5 separate regions of the Homo sapiens genome follow, and all the other regions are linked to region 1. The links come from fine-mapping of genetic effects on gene expression. A gene starts in region 1. Each other region holds a variant in brackets. All regions are shown on one strand. Distances are from middle to middle. Region 1 holds the start of NFRKB (nuclear factor related to kappaB binding protein). Region 2 overlaps TMEM45B (transmembrane protein 45B). Region 3 overlaps LOC124902793 (a long non-coding RNA gene). Region 4 overlaps TMEM45B (transmembrane protein 45B). Region 5 overlaps TMEM45B (transmembrane protein 45B).

The links. PIP is the estimated chance that this variant, and not a neighbour inherited with it, causes the effect.
Region 2: its variant is fine-mapped to the expression of NFRKB in whole blood (INTERVAL, PIP above 0.99).
Region 3: its variant is fine-mapped to the expression of NFRKB in whole blood (TOPMed, PIP above 0.99).
Region 4: its variant is fine-mapped to the expression of NFRKB in whole blood (INTERVAL, PIP above 0.99).
Region 5: its variant is fine-mapped to the expression of NFRKB in whole blood (INTERVAL, PIP 0.95).

What each region holds. Positions count from the first base shown.
Region 1 is chr11:129,893,493-129,898,586 of GRCh38, reverse strand. NFRKB (nuclear factor related to kappaB binding protein) reads left to right here and starts at 3,009. Exons shown (of 27, transcript NM_001143835.2): 1 at 3,009-3,091; 2 at 4,149-4,228. RefSeq lists a silencer at 2,853-3,292.
Region 2 is chr11:129,822,902-129,828,007 of GRCh38, reverse strand. The region is part of intron 1 of TMEM45B (transmembrane protein 45B); the gene reads right to left. Among named protein-coding and RNA genes, the nearest start is that of TMEM45B, 9.6 kb to the right of the region's middle. The variant T/C (reference allele first, on the strand shown) is at 2,845.
Region 3 is chr11:129,793,698-129,798,803 of GRCh38, reverse strand. The region is part of intron 1 of LOC124902793 (a long non-coding RNA gene); the gene reads left to right. Among named protein-coding and RNA genes, the nearest start is that of TMEM45B, 20 kb to the left of the region's middle. The variant G/A (reference allele first, on the strand shown) is at 3,116.
Region 4 is chr11:129,832,533-129,837,638 of GRCh38, reverse strand. All of the region lies in intron 1 of TMEM45B (transmembrane protein 45B), which reads right to left. Among named protein-coding and RNA genes, the nearest start is that of TMEM45B, 19 kb to the right of the region's middle. The variant TTTG/G (reference allele first, on the strand shown) is at 2,823.
Region 5 is chr11:129,839,942-129,845,047 of GRCh38, reverse strand. The region is part of intron 1 of TMEM45B (transmembrane protein 45B); the gene reads right to left. Among named protein-coding and RNA genes, the nearest start is that of TMEM45B, 27 kb to the right of the region's middle. The variant G/A (reference allele first, on the strand shown) is at 3,093.

The DNA.
Region 1 (5,094 bases):
GGATCATTTGAGGTCAGGAGTTCAAGACCAGCCTGGCCAACACGGTGTAACCCTGCTTCTACTAAAAATACAAAAATTAGCCAGGCGTGGTGGTGGGTGCCTGTAATCCCAGCTACTCAGGAGGCTGAAGTGGGAGAATCGCTTGAACCTGGGTGGTGGAGGTTGCAGAGAGCTGAGATTGCGCCTCTGCACTCCAGCCTGGGTCACAGTGCAAGACTCCACCTCAAAAAAAAAAAAAAAAAAAAAAAAAACATGAAGAGTAGCTGTGAGAGGCTAAATGGTAGACTAGACACATCTTAGGAAAGAATTGCTGAGCTTAAGGATATCTCAATAGAAACCTCTATAACTGAAAGACAAACAATATCCAAAAACTGTGAGATGATGAAAAAAAGGTATAACTATGCCTCATGGGAATACTAGCAGAAGACAGAGAAAGGAACAGAAGAAATATTTGAAGCAATAATGATTGATTATTTCCCCAAATCAATATGGAAGATGAAACCACAGATCCGGGAAGCTCAGAGGACACACAGGATAAATGCAAAAAAATCCTTCAAAACCAAAAAACAAATGAACAAAAAATGACTTTTCTTCAGAAACTGTGCACACAAGGAGCGAGTGGAATGAAATGTTTAAGGTGTTGAGAGAAAAAAGCAGTGTCTAACCTAGAATGCTGTAGCCCATGAAATTATCCCCCAAAAGCAAAGGGGATTTGTTGCCAGTAGACCTGCCTTGGAGAGAATGTTAAGTTTTTCAGAGAGAAGAAAAATGATAAAAGTCAGAACCTCAGATCTATATAAAGAAAGAACATCATTATTACCTTTAATAATGAAGGTAAAGGAAAAGTCTTACTTATTCTTTGTTGTTTTATTTTTCTTTTTACTTTTTTGAGACAGGGTTTCACTCTGTTGCCCAGGCTGGAGTGCAGTGGTGCAATCACAGCTCACGGCAGCTTCGATCTCCCTGGCTCAAGCGATTCTCCCACCTCAGTCTCCTGAGTAGCTGGGACTACAGGCACGTGCCACCACACCTGGCTAATTTTTTGTATTTATTTTAGTAGAGATGGGGTTTCACCATATTGCCCAGGCTGGTCTCCAATTCCTGGGCTCAAGTGATCCACCCATCTCAGCCTCTCAAAGGGGAAGATCCTGGGCATTGGGACTGAGGTGTTTTTGATACGTTCATGCAAAGATGCCTGGAGTGGGTGGTTGGATTTCTGGGTTGTTTGATTCATAATTGCTTGATTCATAATTGCCAAAACCTGGAAACAATGAAGATATCTTTCAGTAAGCGAATAGATAAAACTGTGATATATCGACACAATGGAATATTATTCAGCACTAAAAAGAAATAGGAGCTATCAAGCCATGAAAAGACATGGAGGAAACTTCAATGCCTGTTACTACGGGAAGGAAGCCAATCTGAAACGGCTACATACTATGTAATTCCAACTAGATGACACTCTGGAAAAAGGCAAAACTATGGAGACAAAAAGATCAGCGGTTGCCAGGGGTAGAGGAGAGGGAGAGATGAATATGCAGAGCACAGATGATTTTTAAGACAGTGAAATTACTCTGCATTATACTGTGATGGTGGGTAATGATGTATCAATGTAGGTTCATCAGTTCTTTTGTTTGAGATGGAGTCTCGCTCTGTCTCGCTCTGTCGACAGGCTGGAGTGCAATGGCTCAATCTCGGCTCACTGCAACCTCCGCCTCCCCGGTTCAAGCAATTCTCCTGCCTCAGCTCCCGAGTAGCTGGGACTACAGGTGCCCGCCACCACGACCGGCGAATTTTTGTATTTTTAGTAGAGACGCGGTTTCACCATGTTGGCCAGGATGGTCTCGATCTCCTGATCTCGGGATCCGCCCGCCTCGGCCTCCCAAAGTGTTGGGATTACAGGCGTGAGCCACCAGGCCGGGCCGGGTTCATCAGTTCTAAGAAATGTACCACTCTGGTAGAGGATGTTGATAAAGGGAAGGCGATGCATGTGGGGAGGTGGGGCGGGGAGTATTTGGAAAATATCTTTCTGCTCAATTTTGTTAACTTTAAACCACTTTAAAAAAACAAAGTCTATCAAAAATTATAGTTTACATTGTTTTTACTCTTTTTCTCTTTCTGGTCTTGTCACAATCTCAAGGTAAGGGAAATATCGGTGACAACTATAGAGTGATATTCCACTGCCATTTATACTCGATAGTTTCTAATTCAAGAGCCTCTCAACAGTGTAACAGGAACTTAGAGCATATGTGGAGCCAGTAGAGGAACAGAGATCGGGTTGTTTGGAAACTACTCTCTTCCAGGAAGGGAAGAACATTAGCTCGGCCGGCCGGCTTCTCTGGTCCCATCCACACACAGAACTGAGGATGGTCTCTGCGCCACTGCTGGGAGTACCTGGAATAAGTAGTGTGAAGCCGTACTAAGCAAAACCCAGTGAATAACAGGAAAGGGGCCTTCATATCTAAGAAGAGGAAAATGATGGAGTTTAACTTTAAAATGTGATCCTTCGATGTGTTTACATTCTTTCTGGACATCGAGGGCCCGGGGACGGGAAGGAGGAATGAAGGAACTCGGAAGCACAGGCTGAGGTCGCGTTCTACTCATGTCCTCAACTGTAAAATGGGCACTAATAGTGCATAGCTCACAGGGCTGCAGCACAAAGACGGTGGGTAGAAAGTGCTTAGCATAGGGCCTGGGGCAGGGTATGCTCTCTGCAAACGTCAGCTAATAGACGTGCCTTCGCTCACGGGCTATGGAACTTTGATTCGCGGTCAGGCAAAGACAGGCACTGTCTGGGGCCTCTGGAAGCTCCTAAATCAGGTGAGACGCGCAAGCAGGCTGGAACCTGCATCCCCAGGCCCAGCCGCGCGCAGGCACCCTCGCCGACCCTCCGCTCTCCCGAGCCGCTCCAGGACCCGCCCGCTGTGGCCCCGCCCCGGCACCCTCCAGGCCCCGCCCCGCGCTGCCCCGCCCCTTCCGCCGCGCAGGCCCAGAGCGTGCGCGCACCCAGACTCCTTGCGGGAGCGAGTGCGTCTGGGAGCCCGCGGCCGGAGAAGGGCTGCGGGTTAGGGGGCCGGCGCCCGCGGTTCAGGTGAGGGCGGGCAAGGGGCGGCGAAAGGGTTGAAGTGTCTCCTGGGAGTGGAGGGAGCGGGAGCGGGCGGCTGGGTCCGCGAGGTCGCTGCCCGTGTGGGCGTGGGGAGCGGGAGCGGGGCGTGGGGAGCGGTGCGACGCGTGAGGCTGGGGGTTAGGGTTAGGCACGGCGTGGGGGAGGGGCGGGGCCGAGCCGTGCAGTTCTGAGGATTGGACCCGGGCCTTGGGCCAGCCGGGCTGGCACCGGAGGGGAATTTGCTGCAGAGTTGAGGGCTTTGGAGCCGGCGGTTGCTCTGGAAGGACCCGAGGGTTTAGCTTCTGCGTTGGGGAGGGTCCAGCGGGGAAAGTTAGACCAGGTGCTGAAAGCCAGTGATGAGAGGCCGAGAGGCCTTCGTGGTCTAGTGAAGAGGTTCAGAACGCCCGAAGATCTGGAAATCCTTGGCTTCCGGGGTCCAACTCCCTGGCAGCTGCCTGGTTTTGGTATTTTGAGATTCTGTTCAGAATAGTGGCAGTGCAAAGGTTGTCAGTGGACTAGATTAACTTTAGCTAGACACGCACCGTCACTGAAGAAACTTGTGAGCAAGTTGTATAGAGACCTCCTAAGAGGCAGGTAGGACACTGACTTTGCAGTTGATAGTCTGTTCTATGCCAGTTCTGTTAAGAAGGTTTTATTCTGAGCATCAGGTTGCTTCTGCAATTTTTTTTTGGTGCTATTTTGAAGTTTTGTTAAACTCACATGCTATGTGCTGTCTCACCCGCTTCACTTATTTAGGCATAGGCATGATGAGGATGTCATTTCACCATGTGCTGAAGGGTGATGAGGGGGCACAGTTGCTTGGGGACCACCCACGTGACTTGACTCAACGCTTAAGTTTCTGCTATATCTTTACATGGATCTGAAATCTCTTCAAGGGAGCTTGAAATAATTTAGTGGAACATGCTTCATTTTACATATAGTTATTCTAGAACTGTTCTTTATCATTGGAGAATTTTGGAAAAGAAAAGTACCTGTATTACGTAATTCACACTGTCACTCATCTAGAGATTATTCATTGCAGGATTCCAGAATTGGAAATAACGGGAGGGAGGACCTGGTCCAGCTTCCCTTCCTCAAATAAGGAAATTGACACCTGGCGTGGTAAGATTTGTGGAATGTGGTGTTTGTGGAATGTGGAATATGGAATTCTGGTGTTTTGACTGTTAACATCCTTTTTTCTTTTCATTTTAGTATGCTTTTTAGCCCACTTTGTAGGAATAGGAGCTGGAAAGGATGGATTTAGTAAATGTTGGTAGAGTGATTGAGTTTAAGCTCCCTGTGGTCCTGTTAGCATTGTGCAGTCCTGTGCTATCAACTTGACCCCTAATCCCAGCCATCAGTCTGAAAATGTTGTGGTATGTAGTTTTCTGAAGGTGATCAGCAGTGTTCTGTTATTACACGAAGGAGAAAAGTAGCATTAATTTACATGATTATACGGATCAAATGGACCAACTAAAGGCAGATTGGCCATTGACTTTACTGGTGGTTATGGTCAGGTGTGTGGAACCTCAGGAATTTATATGGACTAATAAAGTCATATCAGTAAGGTTCGTTTTTATTATTTAAATGTTGCGAGGTTATACAAGAGGTATTGTGTGTAGCATTAAGCACATGGGTTTGCAGGCAGGTAGACCTGAGTTTCAGTACTGCCTCTGGGGTTGGGCAAGTTACTGACCTACTCTGATTTTCAGTTTTAATTCCGATGTAATAACCCATGACCTTACTTTGCACAGTTGTAGGAATTAAATGAGATATGTGAAAGGCCTGGCTTTTAATAGGCCCTCATAAAGTGACTGTTAGCATTTGCATTTTACTAGTGTATGTTGATTTTCAGCAAATTTTCTTTTGTGAAAGAACAACAAACAATATTCTTTCTCTTTTTCCTTTCCTTTTTTTTTTTTTTTGAGACAGGGTCTCTGTTGCCCAGGCTGGAGTGCAGTAGCGTGATCACGGCTTATTGTACCCTC
Region 2 (5,106 bases), 71 kb after region 1:
CCCCATAAGATTATAATACTTTTTTGTTTCTTTTTTTTGAGACAAGGTCTCACTCTATTGCCCAGGCTGGAGGGCGGTGGCACGATCTCAACTCACTGCAACCTCCGCCCCCAGGGTTCAAGTGATCCTCCTGCCTCAGCTTCCTGAGTAGCTGGGACCACAGGTGTGCACCACCACGCTCGGCTAATTATTTTATTTTATTTCTGAGGCAGAGTTTCGCTCTTGTTGCCCAGGCTAGAGTGCAATGGTGCAGTCTCAGCTCATGGCAACCTCCGCCTCCCAGTTCAAGCTATTCTCCTGTCTCAGCCTCTCGAGTAGCTGGGATTACAGGCACGCACCACCACGCCTGGCTAATTTTGTATTTTTAGTAGAGGCGGGGTTTCTCCATGTTGGTCAGGCTGGTCTCAAACTCCCGACCTCACGTGATCTGCCTGCCTCCGCCTCCCAAAGTGCTGGGATTATAGGTGTGAGCCACTGCGCCTGGCCATAATACCATATGTTTAATGCATGTTTTCCGTGTTTAGATACACACATACTTACCACTGTGCTATAACTGCTTACAGTGTGTGGTACGGTAATGTGCTGTACAGGTTTGAAGTCAGTTCTTGGAAAAAGTGCTCACACCTACAGACTCCCTTCAGCATCTGCTAACAGTGCGTATACTCAGCACTGACAGTATACACCGCATAGCCTAGATGTGTAGTAGGCTATGCCATCTGGGTTTGTGTAAGTACACTCTAGGATGTCCACACAACAAAATCGCCTAACGACACATTTCTCAGAACATGTCCCTGTCGTTAAGCACCACATGACAATACTTGTGAAAGACTGATTGTCCTGGGACGTACTGGTAGCAGTCCTAGCACATAGCACACAAAGTGGGTAACTCTCACCTGAGAAACTGGGCAGGCCTCACAGAGCGGGAGGCATTTGATTTGGGCCTTTCTTCAAACTGTCATGAAAATTAGGCAGTTTTGCTGGATCCTGAATTCGAGAATGAAAAATAAATTGGAGGCCGGGCACGGTGGCTCACGCCTGTAATCCCAACACTTTGGGAGGTCGAGGCGAGCAGATCACGAGGTCAGGAAATCGAGACCACGGTGAAACCCCATCTCTACTAAAAATACAAAAAATTAGCCGGGCATGGTGGTGGGTGCCTGTAGTCCCAGCTACTCGGGAGGCTGAGGCAGGAGAATGGCGTGAACCCAGGAGGTGGAGCTTGCAGTGAGCCGAGATCGCGCCACTGCATTCCAGCCTGGGTGACAGATCGAGACTCCGTCTCAAAAAAAAAAAAAAGAAAAACAAATTGGACTAAATTCTATTTTCTCACTATCTAACAAGAACACTGGCCACTGAGTCAGAATACTTGGGTCCTAGCCTGAATGCTGCTAGGAATTCACTCTGTGACCTTGAGCAAGACACATAGCCTCTCAGGGTCCTTTTTTTTTTTTTTTTTTTTGTGACAGAGTCTTGCTGTGTCCCCCAGGCTGGAGTGCAGTGGCGCCATCTCGGCTCACTGCAAGCTCTGCCTCCCGGGTTCACACCATTCTCCTGCCTCAGCCTCCCGATTAGCTGGGACTACAGGCACCCGCCACCACGCCCAGCTAATTTTTTGTATTTTTAGTAGGCACACGGTTTCACTGTGTTAGCCAGGATGGTCTCGATCTCCTGACCTCGTGATCCGCCCGCCTCGGCCTCCCAAAGTGCTGGGATTACAGGCGTGAGCCACCGCGCCCGGCCTCTTTATTTGTTAAATAGGGAGTTTGGAAGAGGGACTCTCCATGGCTCTTCTGAATTCTGAAATTCCTTTATGTCTTTGCTCCTCATTAATACATCACAAAAACGAAATGCAGAAGTTGGAGCAAGTTTTGGTCATGGAGAAGGGAGGATGAAACTAAGGCTATGGCTATTACCTACAAAGAAGCAGTTACCAGTTGCCACCTCAGCATACATTAGAGTGAAAGGACATCTCTGGACTTCAAAGGTGGGTTTAGTTTTCAAACAACCAAAAAAAAAAACCAAAAAAAACCTTACATATATTTCTGTAATTAACACTATCCTTAACTCAGCCATGGGAAAGAATACATTTAGTTCAGAATTCTCTTTCTGGGCGCTCAAGGAAAATAATAATGGAAAGATCTCTCCAAAGTCATGGAGTCAAATTTCCAAGATGCCAGGCCACTAAGGAACATTTCTTCAAGGCTTGGGCTCTCTGCCTTCTCCACCTCTTGGAAAAAGTGCTCAAGCTTACAGACAGACTCCTTCCTTCCTTCCCTCAGCATCCACTACCAGTGGGCTTGTTCAGCACTGACATTAGTGAGCAGGCAGAGGCTGGGCCTTCCACTTTACTCAACAGTCCTCCTTGCATAAGCCCTTACTTCCGTTTCCTCTTCCCCTTGCAAGAACTCTCACGCACACCCATGGATTAATCACCACTTGCACAATGGTGACTCCCACAACTTCATCTCCAGCTCTGGCCTTGTCTCTAAGTCTCAGACTCATAGATCCAACAACCTGCTGAACAGACAGACATGCACATAAACGTATAGATGTTTCTTAGACACCTCAAGTCAGTATTTCCAAGACTGAACTCACCATCTTCTTTCCCCACCAAATCGGCTTCTCTTCTCATATCCCAAACTTAGTTAATGGCTTAATGTCCAGTCACCCAGAAAGCCAGAATCTTGGGAGTCATTCTGGACTCTCTTCTCCCCTCACCATTGCCCCCAAAGACATCAAAATTCTGCTAAATTCGCTTCCCCAAGTATCCTGGTATTTTCTCTTTCCCTTCTGTGCCTGCAGCAATGATCTCATTTGGTCTCTCATTGTCTTTTTCCTAAACAC[T/C]GCGAGGCCTCTAGTCCTGCTGTCCATGAATTCTTCTTCCACCCCGCAGCCAGTCATCCACCTTCCGTGTACATCTGACTACACTACTGGAGGATGGAAAATGTTCCATTGGCTAACCAGCAGCCTGTGGAGGGGTCCACGTCCCCTTGCATTGGGTATACCTGAATGTGGCTCCTCTCCAGTGTCACCTCCCAATTCTCCCCACCATGAACCTGACAGTGTCCCCTTTGCTCATGTTGTCCCCTCTAAATTGCACGTCCTTTTCATTCCTCTTACTTGGTTTCCATATTTAGGCCTTATTTCCTCCAGGAAGCCTCTGTGAATCTCCAGGCTGGGCTAAGCGCCTCACCTCTGTGTTTTCAAAGGACCTCATACATACCATGATTTTTTATCACTTACCATGTTATATTAAAATTATATAGTGACATATGTCTTGCCCATTAGTCTACAGAATCTTCAAGAGTGGAGACCTTATCATCTCCATCAAAAACTAGCACAAGCTTGATACATAATAATAGTTCTTAAACTGAACTGAACTGATGCAGCTTAGCCTTCATCTTGAATCAAGAGAACACCATCTCCTAAATCTAGCCATTGGTAAAATTGTTGGTACCGTTACTATTTTCATACAATTCTTAGAGCTAGGTAAGTCCCTTGATTTCTACTACTGTGTCTCACAGACTGGCATATGTGTGAATCCTTTCCCCCCAGATGATATCTGAAATCACAAGACGAACATAATCCTGGAGTATCAATTTCACCTAAAGATTCTGGAAAAATGATTTTCATTTTAAAACAGATACAGACATATTGTGGGGTAGCATATATTTTTTAGTATTAAGAGAGACTGCACTTATGCCAGGCTGTTCTCAGACAAGTCTCCAGGTCCCTGGGAGTTTAGACTCTATTGTTAGTGCTGACGATTGAGAAACAGTAATCTATAGATCACTGTTTTGCACTGTAGTTTAGTTACTGTTCTAGAGCCTCCCATAGAGAAATAAACAGCCCCAGTGAGACCGAAGCAGGAGCTATCTCAGTAATGGCCAGAAGAGAGGGACTTTCATTGTGGGTCTGAGTTAGGTTTGAAAAGATGTCTGTGTGATTGACAGGTAGGTATTCTGAAATGAGCACAACAATGAGCTTTGTATAATGTATAAAATATGCCAGATTGTAGATCAATGTAGGGGAGGAGGCAGAAAAATGACCATTAGAACAGATCAAAGAGAAGCTCTGGATCAAAGTGCAGGCCGATCAAAGACACTGGAAGGAAGGGAAGGGCACTACAGTCAAGGGATGGAACATGAGGAAAAAAATAATCCAAACTGAACTGTGGCTCAGGAGGGACTCGATGCAGGGTGGTTGGTGATAACCTAAGAAATAATTAGATATTTAGTAGGGTGATATGGGGAGTTTTCAATCCAGGAAATTCTACTTAGAGTCCTAGTAGTTAGAGATCTTTCAAGTTTGTTTTCTTATAGCTATTCCATACCATCAGATTTGAGAATGAGGTAGCATCATCCAAGAGGTGGTGACATAAAAAGATTTAACAGAAACAGAGGAAATAGCAAGGGGACAGGTAGGAAGGGCTAGTTTAAAACAGATAATAGGGTCAATTTAAGTCAACTAACATTTATCAAGTACCTGTTATGCATAAGGCACTGTTCTGGGAGATGGAGTTGCAGGGGTGACAAGCCTGGGCCTGTGCTGTCAGGGAGTTTGCAGTCTTTGTTGAAGTCGCCTAAGAAGGAAAAGCTAACAGCAAAAAATCAGGGTCTAATGGGCAGGCTTTCCAAGTGAGAGGCCTTAAGAAGCTAAAGCAGGAACGATTCCTATCAAACGTAGTATCTGTTCCCTTCACGTGATCTAAAACTTTCCCAGGAAAAAAATAAAAAACATGAATCTGCTCCAAGTTTTGATGATCACTGTGGGGCTGCAGAAGGGAAAAATTGCATGGATTTGGAGGGTGACCTTCAAGGACAGAAATTCTGTCCCAAATTCTAGAGATATTAGAAAAATATTTTCCCAGGCTGGGTGTGGTGGCTCATGCCTGTAATCCCAGCACTTTGGGAGGCCGAGGTGGGTGGATCACAAGGTCAGGGGTTCGAGACCAGCCTGACCAACATGGTGAAACCCTGTCTCTACTAAAAATACAAAAATTAGCTGGGCATGGTGGTGGGCGCCTGTAATCCCAGCTACTCAGGAGGCTGAGGTAGGAGAATGGCTTGAACTCGGGAGGCGGAGCTTGCAGTGAGCTGAGATCGC
Region 3 (5,106 bases), 100 kb after region 1:
AAACTCAAGGCCTGCTGTTCAGATTCTCTTATCCCATGGTGTGATCCTTAGATGTGGTGCTCTTCCCTTTCCCCTAGGACTGGGGCTTCCTAAGAGCTGGACTATAGTGATTCTTACTGCTCTTCTAGGCCTAGCCACCCAGTGGAGCTACCAGGCTATGTGCTGGTGCTGGGGAATGTCTGCAGAGTTCTGTGATGTGGTCTTTCTTCAGGTCTCCCATCCTTGGATCGCAGCACCTTCTCTGGTGGAGGTGGCAGGGGAGTGAGGTAGACTCTATGAAAGTCCTTGGTTGTAGATATGTTTAGTGTGCTGGCTTTCTGTAATGCTGGTTACACTAGTGGTAAAGTTGTCACATGAACACACACAGGACCTTTGGTTAGCCAGGATGTTTCAGGAAGTGGAATTAGGTGTTGTCTTTTCCTTCCTGGGATCAGGGTTATTCTGTCATGAGTTACTGTGGTGGCCTGAGTTGGTTGGCCTCTAGCCAGGAGATGGTGCTTTCAAGAGAGCACCAGCTGCAGTAGTCGTAGGGGGCTCTAAGCTTGCCCTAAGATGGTCAGGGTAAGTATTTTGGATACTCAGGTGATTGGCAGGGCCATAAAGCTCCCAAGAGTTTCTGAGTTTTGTGTTCAACTACCAGGGCAAGTAGGAAAATACCATCAGGTTGGGGCAGAGTTAAGAGGGTCTAGGCTCAGATTCTCCTTGGGTGGGGCTTGCTGCAGCCACTGTGAGTGATGGAGGATAGTTCTCAGGCCAATGGGGTTATGTTCCCAAGAGGATTTTGGCTACCTCCACTGTATCATATAGTTTGCCAGGGTAGTAGGAGATAGCTGGTAGCAAGAGGCCTGACCCAGCTCCCACACCATTGGTCAGGCCAGCCTCTCTTCTGCAGTGGACCATTCAGACCTTGCCCCAGGCTGTGAGCTTACCCCACTGAGAAAGCAAGCACGGCTTTCAGACCTCGCCTCTCTCCATCTGCCTACTTCATTGGCAGCACCTTGTATCCACAACACCTCCCACTCATCACCTGGACTCCACTCAAGAAAATTTGTGCCCAGTTGAAACCACTACCAATTTCACTTGGGAGGTTTCTTCACCCTGTGGCCCTTCCCCAATTCCACTGGCTGCCTTCCTTGAGGGCCTCTGTAAGATATACTCAGGGATGGCTTCCCTGGGGTTGAGCTGGAGACTTGGAGTACATCCAAGGCACTTCCCAATGCTACTTCTACTTTTCTACTTTGTGTGAATCCCTAAATCCATTTAATCTCTAGGTAAGGTTAAATTCTTCTCCTGTGATCTGGATTTTCGGATTCCCCAGTGGGGATGTGTATTCAGAGGTAAGTTTTCCCTTTCTCACACTTTGGGAACTCACAGTTTTTTTGCCTGTTTCATGAAATTTGCATTGGCGTGCTGCTTCTTTCAAAGGCTCTGTGAATTTTTTCGCTTTTCCTGGTATGTTCCTGCCATGGTTCTTAGAGCAAAAGATCATGGTGTGAGTCTCCACATGCTGTTCTGTCCATCCATGTGGGAGCTGCACATTAGCTCTGTCTCCTAGCTTCCATTTTCCCTGATTTTAATTTTTTTTTTTAAATAGAGATGAGGTCTCCCTATGTTGCCCAGGATGGTCTCAAACTCCTGAACTGAATTGATCCTTCTGCCTTGGCCTCCCTAAGTGCTGGCATTATAGGTGTGAGCCACTGCACCTGGGTGACAAACCAGTTTTGAAAAAGTAAGTCTGACTGTTTAGGTTCGTTTTACAGGTCAAGTTAATCTTCAATCAAGTAGTTAAAAGGTAAATTACTAATAATCAATTATAGAATAATACAATAATACCAGTTAATTATTACCAAGTTGTTTTAGTATAATAGTGGGACAGATTAGTGGGTTTCTTTTTATAATCTTTTTATTCATTTACACCGAGGGAATATAGCATCTTTCATCCAAAGAACTGAACATTTAATCCAAAGAACTGAACATTTTAAAACATGAGCATTTAAAAAGCGATTATATTTTGAAAACCTGGAGTCTTGCTGTTAAATCTCTTTGATTCCAGATACACAATTTTCTGGAAGTCATTATATTAGGGACAATGAAAGAGGCTCAGAAAGAATTCTGATTTCCTTTCACAATACAGTCATTTCCCAAAACCTAGTGCTGGGCTTGCAAAGCAAAAACACACAAATCTTACAAAGCAAAAACACACAGATTTTCCTTGCAGTGACCAATATTGCAAGAAAAATTAGTGTTCTTAAATGAATGTAATTATATGTGGAACTTAGCAAAGGCAAGGATGGCATTTTAATTCAATGGGAAGTGGTTTATGTGTTGCTAGTATAATTGACTATTATTTTGGAAGATCTTATCATAGAGTTTCTCATTATCTAATCTCTCCTTGGCCATCCTGGTGCTAGCCATCCAGAATAAGTATTATTATTTTTTCCAGCTAATATGGTTTGGCTCTGTGTCCCCAGCCAAATCTCATGTTGAACTGTAATCCTCAGTCTTGGGGGAGGGACCTGGTGGGAGGTGATTGGCTCATGAGGCAGATTTCCCACTGCTGTTCCCATGATCATGAGTGAGTTCCCACGAAATCTGGTTGTTTAAAAGTGTGCAGCACTTCTCCCTTTGCTCTCTCTCTCCTGCCGCAATGCGAAGACATGCTCATTTATCCTCCACCCTTCTGCCATGATTGTAAGCTTCCTGAGGCCTCCCGAACCATGCCTCCTGTATAGCCTGTGGAACTGTGAGTCTATTAAAACTCTTTTCTTTATAAATTACCTAGTCTGAGGTAGTTCTTTATAGCTGTGTGAGAACTGACTAACACAGAAAACTCATACCAGGAGAATTGGGGCATTATTATAAAGATACCTGAAAATGTGGAAGCAATTTTGAAACTGGGTAACAGACAGAGATTGGAACACTTTGGAGGGCTCAGAAGAAGACAGGAAGATGAGGGAAAGTTTGGAACTTCTTAGAGACTTGTTGATTGGTTTTGACCACAATGCTGATAGTTATATGGACAACGAAGTCCAGGCTGAGATGGTCTCTGATGGAGATGAGGGACTTACTGGGAAGTGAAGCAAAGGTCACTGTTGCTATGCTTTAGAAAGAGACT[G/A]GCAGCATTGTGCCCTTGCTCTAAGGATCTGTGGAACTGTGAACTTGAGATGATTTAGGGTATCTGCTGAAAGAAATTAATAAGCATCAAAGCATTCAAGAGGTGGTCTGGCTGCTTCTAAAAGCCTATGTTCATTTGCATAAGCAAATGAGAAGAGAAGCAGAGCATATTTAAAAGAGAAGCAGAGCATAAAAGTTTGGAAAATTTTCAGCCTGACCATGTTGTAGGAAAGAAAAACCCATTTTCTTGGGAGAAATTCAAGCCTGCTGCAGAAATGTGCATAAGTAAAGAGAAGCCAAATGTTAATAGCCAAGACAACGGGGAAAGTGCCTCCAGGGCACTTCAGAGACCTTCATGGCAGCCCCTCCCATCACAGGCCTGGAGGCCTAGGAGGGAAAAATGGTTTTGTGCACCAGGTCCAGGGCCCCACTGCTCTGTGCAGCCTTGGGACATGACGCCCTGTGTCCCAGCCACTCCAGCTCCAGCCTTGGCTAAAGGGTCCAAAGTATAGCATGGGCCATTGCTTTAGAGGGTGCAAGCCCCAAGCCTTGGTGGCTTCTGTGTGGCATTGGGCTTCCAGGTGCACAGAAGGCAAGAGTTGAGGTTTGAGAGCCTCTGCCTAGATTTCAGAGGATGTATAGAAATGCCTGGATATCCAGACAGAAGTCTGCTGCAGGGGCAGCGTCTTCATGGAGAACCTCTACTAGGGCAGTGCAGAAGGAAAATGTGGAGTTGGAGCTCCCACACTGTTTCCCCACTGGGGCACTGCCTAGTGGAGCTGTGAGAAGATGGCCACCGTCCTCCAGATCCCAGAATGGTAGATCCACCAACAGCTTGCACTGTGTGCCTGGAAAAGCCACAGGCCTACTCAATGCCAACTCTTGAGAGCAACTGTGGGAGCTGAGCCCTGCAGAGTTACATGAGCATAGCTGCCTAAGGCCTTGGGAGCCCACCCCTTGCATTAGTGTGCCCTGGATGTGAGACATGGAGTCAAAGGAGATTATTTTGGAGCTCTAAAATTTAATGACTTCTCTGCTGGGTTTTGGACTTGCATGGGACCTGTAGCTCCTTTGTTTTGGCCAATTTCTATCTTTTGGAGCAGGAGCACTTACCCAATGACTGTATCCCCATTGTATCTTGGAAGTAATGAACTCATTTTTGATTTTACAGGCTCATAGGTGGAAGGGACTTGCCTTGTCTCAGATAAGACTTTGGACTTGTGGGGACTGATGGGAAGGCATGATTGATTTTGAAATGTGACAAGGACATGAGATTTGGGAGGGGTTGGGGTGGAAAAATATGGTTTTGCTTTGTGTTCCCACCCAAATCTCATGCTGAATTGTAATCCCTAGTGTTGCAGGAGGGGGCTGGTGGGGGGTGATTGGATCATGGTGGCAAATTTCTCCCTTGCTGTTCTTGTGACAGTGAATGAGCTCTCATGAGGCCTCTGGTTGTTTAAAAGTGTGTGGCACTTCCCCCTTTGCTCTCTCTCTCCTGCCATCATGTGAAGATTTTGCTGCTTCCCTCTTGCCCTTCTTCCATTATTGTAAGTTTCATGAGGCCTCCCCAGTCATGCCTCCCATATAGTCTGTGGAACTGTGAGTTGATTAAACCTCTTTTCTTTATATATTACCCAGTCTCAGGTAGTTCTTTATAGCAGTTTGAGAACGGACTAACACACCAGCCTTCCTTTTAGATAGGCGGAATTATGTGACTAAGTTCAGGCCAATGGGCTGTGAGTGGAAATGATACAGGCAACCTCCGAGGGGTGTCCTGAAAAGAAGAGAGTGTGCCCATCTTCTCCCTTTCCCCTCTCCTGCTGCCTGGAAGATGGTAATGGGTCATCTTAGACCAATGTTAGGGCAAGAGGAAGCTAGATTCTTGGATAGTTTCACACAGTGGTTTCCTACTAGCGTAGACTACTAAACTAGTGTCCACTAGTGCCCACCTGGAATGACCACCTCCAGACTGTTAGGTGGAAAGATAAATAA
Region 4 (5,106 bases), 61 kb after region 1:
CTGCACTCCAGCCTGGGCAACAGAGGAGACCCTGTCTCAAAAAAAAAAAAAAAGCCCAGTGCAGTGGCTCATGCCTGTAATTCCAGCACTTTGGGAGGCCGAGGCGGGCAGATTGCCTGAGGTCAAGAGTTCAAGACCAGCCTGGCCAACATAGTGAAACCCTGTCTCTTACTAAAAATACAAAAATTAGCCGGGCATGGTCGTGGGCACCTGTAATCCCAGCTACTCAGGAGGCTGAGGCAGGAGAATCTCTTGAACCCGGGAGGCAGAGGTTGCAGTGAGCTGAGATGGCGCCACTGCACTTCAGCCTGAGAGACAGAGCAAGACTCCGTCTCAAAACAAAAAAAAGAAAAAAAAGAAACCCCTCACTCTCACCAGTCTTCTCCTTCCCCAGCCCTATCTACACGTGGTAGAGACCAGCCCGGGCTGGTCTTAAAGGGAGAAGAGCATGCTGTAAGAGGGAGTAAGTGGGATTTCAATAACAAAGAAAGAAGGCAGCCTGTTCTCTTCTCCCTTCAGGACTAAAGGGCTTTGGGAAGCAGGCCTGGGCGAGAGCAGGATCTCACAGCCTCGGCATTGCTGAGACTCTGGGCCACAGGGGTCTTGGTTGTGGGGCCGTCCTGCACATTGCGGGGTGTCCAGCAGGCAGCCACCAGTCGATTTTATATTTCTACAGGTTTGCCTTTCAATTCATAAATTGAATTATATAATATGTGGCCTTTTGTGACTGGCCCTTTCTGTTGGCACGATGTTTCCCAGGTTTCTCCATGTTGTAAGCATGAATCACCACTGAGTCCTTTTGATGGCTGAATGGTATTTCATTGTGTGGGTAGACCACATACACTGGTTGCTAGGGCTGGTAACACAGTACCACACACTGGGCAGATTAAACAACCATTTATATTCTCAGTTCTGGAGGCCTCTCTCCTTGGCTTGGAGATGGCCATCTTCTCTCAGTGTCCTCACATGGTCGTCCTCTTGTGTGTGTCTGTGTTCTTATAAGGACATTACTCATACTGCATTTGGGCCCCACCCTAATGATCTCATTTTAATTTAATTACTTCTTTAAAGATCTTATCTCAAAAGAGTCACATCCTGAGGTACTGGGAGATAAGACTTCAACATTTGAATTTGGAGAGAGCACACTCAGCCCATAACACCCTGTCCTCTGCTCCCTGAAAATCCATATCCTTCTCATATGCAAAATACACTTATCCCCATCCCTACAGTGCCAAAAGTCTTAACCCAGATCAGCATCAACTGTTAAGTCCCAAATCTCATGTAAGTATCGTCTAAACCAGGTATGGGTGAGATTTGAGGTATGGTTCATCCTGAGGCAAAATTCTCCAGCTGTGAACCTTTACGACCAGACAAGAAATTATCTGCTTCCCAAACAGGACAGGCAGAGCATAGACATTTCTAGTTTAAAAGTGGGACATTGGAAAGAAGAAAGTGGTCATGGATCTCCTGTCCTGGAACCTGGTAGGGCAAATTCCGTTCAATTTTTTTTTTTTTAATTTGAAATGGAGTTTCACCCTTGTCGCCCAGGCTGGAGTGCAATGGCGCGGTTTTGGCTCACTCCACCCTCTGCCTCCTGGCTTCAAGTGATTCTCCTGCCTCAGTCTCCCAAGTAGCTAGGATTACAGGCATGAGCCACCATGCAAGGCTATTTTTTGTATTTTTAGTAGAGACGGGATTTCACCATGTTGCCCAGGCTGGTCTCCAACTCCTGATCTCAGGTCATCCACCTGCCTCAGCTTCCCAAAGTGTTGGGATTACAGGCGTGAGCCACTGCGCCCAGCCCAATGCCAAGGCTTGAGAATAATCCTCTTTGGCTCAGTGTTCTGTTGTCTGGGTCCACAGGGTGGCCCTGCCTTCCAGGGCCATCACCCTGATTCCTCTACCCTAAATGCTGGCCCCACCCCTTGGTCCTGGGCTGGGGCATCCTGGCCTGCTGAAACCAAGGAAGTGGCACCAGACCTGCCCCTGAATCTGTGTGCCTGGGCCCAAGGTGGCAGTAGCAGCCTGGCAGATCTCTGAACTGGCTTCAGAGTCATTCTTCCCTTTCCTTTAAGGATAACTCATGATCACAGCCATATCGCTGTACTGGCTGGTCCTGCAGAATTCCAGAAATCTGACAATCTTCCTTCATTTCTTCCTATTTCTGTCTCCTTTGGTCCAAACTGGCAATGTCTGCTGGTATAAATTCTCAAAAACCTTGGCCTCCTATGCAATCCACAGGGGGTGAGGCCATTTGACAAGAGGGCCCTCCACAGATGTTCCTGGGAAAACCACATCTCTGTTCCCGACTTGCTGAGTTGGTTGACTGTATCCATGCATCACATTGGCCATCTTTTCAGACAGGGGTTCAGCCACACCCTTGGTCTTTTCTCCAGAATGTGCTTTCACACTTTTTGTAGAATGGATAGATGGAGAATTTTCCAAATCTTCAAGTTTTGGTTCCTTTTTTTCTAAAAATTCCTTTTTTAGCTTGTCTCTCTCCTCTCATATTTTACTATGAGCAGCAAGAAGAAATCAGGCCACCTTCAGTACTTTGCTTAGAAATCTCCTCAGCTAAATATCCAAGTTCATCATTTATAAGTTCTGCTTTCCATGAAACATGAGAATCCAATTCAACAAATTTCTTTGCCACTTTATAACAAGGTCTATCTTTCTTCTAGTTTCTAATATCATGTTCCTCATTTCTGTCCAAGATCTCACCAGAAGTACGTTTAACATTCATATTTCAGCCAACATGCTGTTCCTGATGATACATGTATTCTCTAAGATGACAGATGTTTCTCTCTCTTTTTTTTTTTTTT[TTTG/G]TGGAGATGGAGTCTCTCTCTGTCACCCAGGCTGGAGTGCAGTGGCATGATCTTGGCTCACTGCAACCTCTGCCTCCCAGGCTCAAGCAATTATCCTGCCTCAGCTCCCCGAGTAGCCGGGACTACAGGTGCATGCCACCACACCTGGCTAATTTTTGTATTTTTAGTAGAGATGGGGTTTCACCATGTTGGCCAGGCTGGTCTCAAACTCCTGACCTCAGGTGATCCACATGTCTTGGCCTCCCAAACTGCTGGGACTACCGGCGTGAGCCATGGTGCCCAGCTGATAGATGCTTTCTCTACAGCTCTGTTTTTTCTTTCTCAGTCCTCACTGGAATCACCTTCAATGTCCACATTTCTGTTGCTGTTTTTTTTTTTCCTTTGAGACTGAGTCTCGCTCTATTGCCGAGGCTGGAGTGCAGTGGCGTGATCTCAGCTCACTGCAATTTCTGCCTTTCAGGTTCAGGCAATTCTTCTGCCTCAGCCTCCTGAGTATCTGGGATTACAGGCGCACGCCACCACGCCTGGATAATTTTTGTATTTTTAGTAGAGATGGGGTTTCACCATGTTGGCCAGGCTGGTCTCGAACTCCTGACCTCAAGTGATCCGCCTGCCTCAGCCTCCCAAAGTGCTGGGATTACAGGCGTGAGCCACCGCGCCCGGCTAATGTCCACATTTCTATCAACAGTCTCTTTAAGGCAATTTAGGCCTTTTCCAACATGCACCTCCAAACTCTTCCAGCCCTTACTCACTGTTTAGTTCCAAAGCCACGTCTGCTCAACAGCACGCTATTTCTTGGTACCCAAATCTGTACTGGTTGCCAGGGCTGCTGTAACAAAGTCCCACAGACTAGGGGACTTAAACCACAGCCATTTATCTTCTAACAGTTCTGGAAGCTAGAAGTCTGAGACCAATGCATTGGCAGAATGGGTTTCTTCTGAGGTGTCTCTCCTGGGCTTGCAGATGACCGCCTTTGCCCTATTTCTTCAAATGGTCTTCTTTCGGTGTGTGTCTGTGTCTAAAGTTCCTTTTTTATTTCAGACACAGGTTTGCTCTTGTTGCCCAGGCTGGAGTGCAGTGGCACAATCTCGGCTCACTGCAACCTCCGCCTTCTGGGTTCAAGTGATTCTCCTGCCTCAGCCTCCTGAGTAGCTGGGATTACAGGTGTCCGCCACCATGCCTGGCTAATTTTTGTATTTTTAGTAGAGACGAGGTTTCACCATGTTGGCCAGGCTGGTCTGGAACTCCTGAGCTCAGGTGATCCACCCGCCTCAGCCTCCCAAAGTGCTGGGATTACGGGTGTGAGTCACTGCGCCTGGCCCTAAAGTTCCTCTTATAAGGATACCAGTCATATTGGATTACTGTCCTAATGACCTCATTTTAACTTGATTACTTCTTTAAAGATCCTGTCTCCAAACACAGGCATATTCTGAGGCACTGGAGGTGAGGACTTCAACATATACACTTGGAGGTGGGGGGACAAAATTCTGCCCATAACGCCATATGTTATTTATCCATTCATCAATTCACACTTACATTTCCTTTTTTTTTTTTTATTTTTCTGTTTATTTTTTGAGACAGAGTCTCCCTCTGTCGCCCAGGCTGGGGTGCAGTGGCACAACCTCAACTCACTGCAGCCTCCACCTCTCGGGTTCAAGCAACTCTCCAGCCTCAGCCTCCCAAGTAGCTGGGACTACAGGTGCGCCACCACAACCGGGTAATTTTTGCATTTTTAGTAGAGATGGGGTTTCACCATGTTGGCCAGGCTGGTCTCGAACTCCTGACCTCAGGTGATCCGCCTGCCTCGGCCTCCCAAAGTGCTGGGATTACAGGTGTGAGCCACCAGGCCCGGCCAATTAACACTTACATTTCCTTTCATAGATTTAATTACTAAATCAATACGAAAAATAACTCTCAGGTGTATAACAAGCTACAAAGATTTCAACCTTACTAAGTTTTTTTACTTTTTATTTCTGTGACAGTTTTTCCTGATGGCTCTGAAAGTCACCCTAAGATGGTTCTCTGTACTTTCTTGCCATTACTCTTCTACTTAAAAAGAAACCCACTCCTAATGACATATAATTTACGTACCGTAAAATTTACCCTTTTAAGGTGTTTAATTTGGTATTTTTTGGTTTACTAACAGCTGTGCAACCATTATTGCTATCTAATTTTATAAAAAAATTACAACTATTCAATTTTAAAATGCTTTTACCAACCCCCCACGAAATCCCATACAAATTGATGGTCATTCCCGTTTCCCGCCAGCCCCCCAACCCCT
Region 5 (5,106 bases), 54 kb after region 1:
TGAATATATATATATTCTTTGATATTTAATCACATATTTACCATTTCCAGCGTTCTTCATTTCTTTCTGTCCATTTTAATAACTCTAAAACCTCATTTTCTTTCGACCTGAAGGATGTCCTTTAATATTTTTTCAGCTTTATTGCGGTATAATTGACAAATAAAAATTGTATATACTCAGGGTATATAACATGATGATTTGATATATGTATACATTGTGAAATGATTGGTATGATCAAGCTAATTAACAGAGTTATCACCTTACCTGGTACCCTTTCCTTTCCTTTGTAATGAGAATCCTTAAGATCTACTCTCTTAGCAAATGTCAAATATAAGGTTTATTATTATTACTATTATTTTTAGAGACAGGGTCTCGCCCTATCACCGAGGGTGGAGTGCAGTGGCATAATCATAGTTCACTGCAGCCCTGAACTTCTTGGGCTCAAGTGATCCTCCGCCTCAGCCTCATAAGTAGTTAGGACTACAGGTGCAGGCCACCACGCCTGGCCAATTTAAAAAATTTTTTGTAGAGACAACGTCTCGCTATGTTGCCCAGGCTGGTCTTGAATGTTTGGGTTCAGGCTATTCTCTCGCCTCAAACTCCCAAGGTGCTGCGATTACAGACATAAGCCACTGTGCCTGGCCAGTATATTATTATTAATGATAGTCACCCTCCTGTACATTAGGTCTCCAAAATTTACTCATAACTGCAAGTTTGTACCCTTTGACCAATATCTCCCCATTTCCCCCACTGCTCCAGAACCCTGGTAACAGGTATTCTATTCTGTTTATATCCAGTTTGATTATTTTAGATTCCACATATAAGTGAGATCACACAGCATTTTTTCTGTGTCTGGCTTATTTCCCTTAGTATAAGGTCTTCAAGGTTCATCCATGTTGTTGCAAATAGCAGGATTTCCTTCTTTTTTAAGGCTGAATAATATCCCATTCTATATATATATACACCACATTTTTTTTGTCCATTCATCAATCAGTGAACACTTAGATTGTTTCCATATCTTGGCTATTGCAAACAAAGCTGCAGTGACCATGGGAGGGCAGATATCTTTTCAAGATAGGGAGTTTATTTGCTTTCGATATATACACAGAAGTGAAATTGCTGGATCATAGGGTAGCTCTATTTTTAATTTTTTGAGAAACCTCCACACTGTTTTCCATAATAGATGTACCAATTCACATTCCCACCAACAGTATGTAAAGGTTCCCTTTATCCACATCCACACCAATCTTGTTTTGTTTTTTGTTTTGATTTTTTGGCAACAGCCATCCCAACAGGTATAAGGTAATATCTTATTGTGACTTTGATTTACATTTCCCTGACGATTAGTGATGTTGAGCATCTTTTCATAAACCACTTGGCCATTGTATGTCTTCTTTAGAGAAATGTCTATGCAGGTCCTTTGCCCACTTTTTTTTTTTTTTCTCAAAGCAGAAAATTTATTGCCTACATTCTTTGACTACAATGCTATAACAACAGAAATATTTTCTTTTACAAAAATCTCAATCACCTTAAACATTTTTTAAGTCACTAAATAACTTTGGGTCAAAGAAGAAATCAAAACTGCAAATACATAAAAGCAAACATCAATTGGCATTGTATACATTAGAACATATGAAATAGATTATAGTAAACAATTATTAAAACACAAAGAATCCAGGATGCGGAAAGCTGGGATGAGTATTACACCCTAACAGCAACGATAGCAGATAAACTACAAAATCATAACTTTTCCTAAACTCATTTGAGAACTGAGATCATAGGGCAATCAAAAAGTCTAAAATAGGCTGGGCACAGTGGCTCATGCCTGTAATCCCAGCACTTTGGGAGGCTGACTGAGGCAGGCGGATCACCTGAGGTGAGGAATTCAAGACCAGCCTGGCCAACATGGCAAAACTCCATCTCTACCAAAAATACAAAAAATTAGCCAGCCGTGGTGGCGCATGCCTGTAGTTCCAGCCACTCGGGAGGCTGAGGCAGAAGAATCGCTTGAACCTGAGAGGCGGAGGTTACAGTGAGCCGAGATTGCACCACTGCACTCAGCCTGTTGCCTACTTTTTAATAGGGTTATTTGTTTTTTACTATTGAGTAGTAAGAGTTTCTTGTATATTTTGGATTTAGCTCCTTATTGCATATATGGTTTGCAAATATTTTCTCCCATTCTATGGGTATCTTTACTCTCTTCATGGTTTTCTTTGCTATGCAAAAGCTTTTTACTTTGATGCAATCCTACTCCTTTACTTTTGCTTTTGTTGCCTGTGCTTTTGTTGTCATATCAAAAAAGAAATCAACGCTAGCACCAATGTCATGTATCTTTCCCTGCATATTTTCTTCTAGGAGTTTTACCATTTTAGGTCTTACATTTAAATCTTTCATCCACCTTTAGTTGATTTTTGTATATGGTGGAAGATAAAGATCCAATTTCCTTATTTTTTTTTGCATGTGGATATCCAGTTTTTCCAGCACCATTTATTGAAGATACTATTCTTTCCTCATTCTTGTTCTTGACACCTTGTAGAAGATTAGTTAACCTTATATGAGTGGGTTTATTTCTGTGCTTTCAATTCTGTTCCATTGCTCTATGTGTGTTTTTATGCCAGTACTATATTGTTTTGATTGCTATAGCTTTATAATATAATTTGAACACAGGAAGTGTGATGCTTCTGGCTTTGTCCTTCCTGTGTGGTTCTCTTTGTGTTTTTTAAATTCAGTGTTGGTTGAGTTTTAAAAAAAATCTGCAATTCAATATCTTTCATCAAACCTGGGAAGCTTTCAGCTATTACTTCTTTATTTTTTTCTCTCTCCCTTTCTGCGGCTTCCATTACACGTATGTGGGGACATTGAGCATCATCCCATGTGTGTCTGAAGGTCTGTTCATTTGTCTTCATTTTTCTTTCTGTTTTTCGAATTGGATCATTTCTATTGGTCTATTTTCATGTTCACTAGTTCTTCCACTATCTCAAAATCTGCTATTGAGCCCATCTAGTGAATTCGAAATTGTACCTTCCAACTCCAGAATTTCCATTTAATTCTTTTTACAGTTTGTATTTCTCTATTTAGATTCCCTATTTGTC[G/A]AGTCATTTAAATCATATTTTCTTTTAATTCCTTGAACAGTTTTCTTTAATTCTCTGAGGCCGGGCGCAGTGGCTCATGCCTGTAATCCCAGCACTTTGGGAGGCCGAGGCGGGTGGATCACTTGAGGTCAGGAGTTCAAGACTAGCCTGGCAAACATGGCGAAACCCCATCTCTACTAAAAATACAAAAAATTAGCCGGGCGTGGTAGTGGGTGCCTGTAATCTCAGCAACTTGGGAGGCTGAGGCAGGAGAATCACTTGAACCCAGGAGGTAGAAGTTGCAGTGAGCTGAGATCACGTCACTGCACTCCAGCCTGGGCGGGCGACAGAGTGAGACTCTTGTCTCCAAAAAAAAAAAAAAAACAAAAAAACAAAAGAAAACTTCAAGCCCATTACACTTCCAACCCCTGTCAGTCCCTCTGTGTGGGGGTTGGAGAAGGCCAGTTTTCAAGTCCCTTATCTCCCTTGCTGGGCTCTCTCAGGTCTTCTCCATATATGCATAGTTTTTTCAGTCAGCCAGGGATGCGTGAAGAGCTCACTTCAATACTTCTCTGATTCTCATTTCCAGAATCCCCCTGTTAAATTCCTGGTTGGCCTGCTGCTTGCCCCAAGTGGGGCTGCAACCTCAAGCTAGCGAAGCTGTGGATTTGTCCTGCTCATTTCCAAGTGTTCATTCCCATGTTAAGCCAGCAAAGCCAAGGATTTTCAACCCCCCAGCCACTGCTCTGAATTGAATCTGTTTGTGTGGCAGTTTTCATGGCCAGCCCCATCTTACTTAAAAGTCATTGGCTGAGCTGGGGGGTGATGGGAGCAGCCACAGGCAAAAAAAGCCACCATCTCCTACTTGCCTGAAGATCTAGTAGTTTTTCAAGAATAAATGCTGCTCAATTTTTTGCCTGCATTTTGTCAATTTCCAGTTCCCTGAAATGCTTGGTTTTGATAAACAATTTTGTCTAGTTTTATATATTTTTTGGTTGTTTGTTGCTTTTTTTTTTTTTTTTTTTTTTTTACAGAAAGAAATTGCCTGCCTCTTTGTGCTGCCATAACTGGAAGGCCTTCTCCTCGTTATTATTTTTTGAGATGGAGTTTCGCTCTTGTTGCCCAGGCTGGAGTGCAATGGTGCAATCTTGGCTCACTGCAACCTCTGCCTCCAAGCGATTCTCCTGCCTCAGTCTCCCAAGTAGCTGGGATTACAGGCGTGCACCACCACGCCCAGCTAATTTTTTTGTATTTTTAGTAGAGACAGGGTTTCACCATGTTGGTCAGGCTGATATAGAACTCCTGACCTCAAGTGATCCACCTGCCTCAGCCTCCCAAAATGCTGGGATTACAGACGTGAGCCACTGTGCCCAGCCCGCTTTCTTTTTAAACCCTCCTTTGAACATAAAAAATTTACATGTTTGTTTAATGTTTAACACAGGTCCCTTTCAATATCAAGCTTATTATACTTCATTTTCCTAGGCAAAGGTGCAGAAAAACCAGCTTTGCAAATGTAGGTCAAAACTGCACAGTGACTAACCGGCTTCCCTCCTCCCTGCACTTCCTCATTTTTCTCAGAAGCAGTACCTGAAATAAAGGCAGAGTCCTTGTCTGCCTCTATGTACTTGATACCAGCTTGTCAAGACCCACCCTTCCCTTTTACCTCGTCTAAAATTCACACCAGTGGACAGCAGGGCCTGCAGCATGTCTGTAGAAATTTATTTAAACTTATGTATGATTCATAGAAGACTGAGTACTTTGATTTGATGGGGATGGGCTATATTTCTTCCAATAACAAATTAATGGATTAGTTCATTAGATTAGCTACATTATGGAACACGTGGAGGAGATGGAGGATGAGTTAGTTTTAGTTACAGGAGGAATAAGGTAATAAATAACTTCAAGTAGAACAATAAAAATTTGGACTTCTAAATAATTTGGATAACCCATTTTCCAAATATAGGCTAAGCCCCTGCTGTGGTTTAGCATTAAAAACATTTAAATAAAATACATGTTAAATAAAAAAGTACTTAAG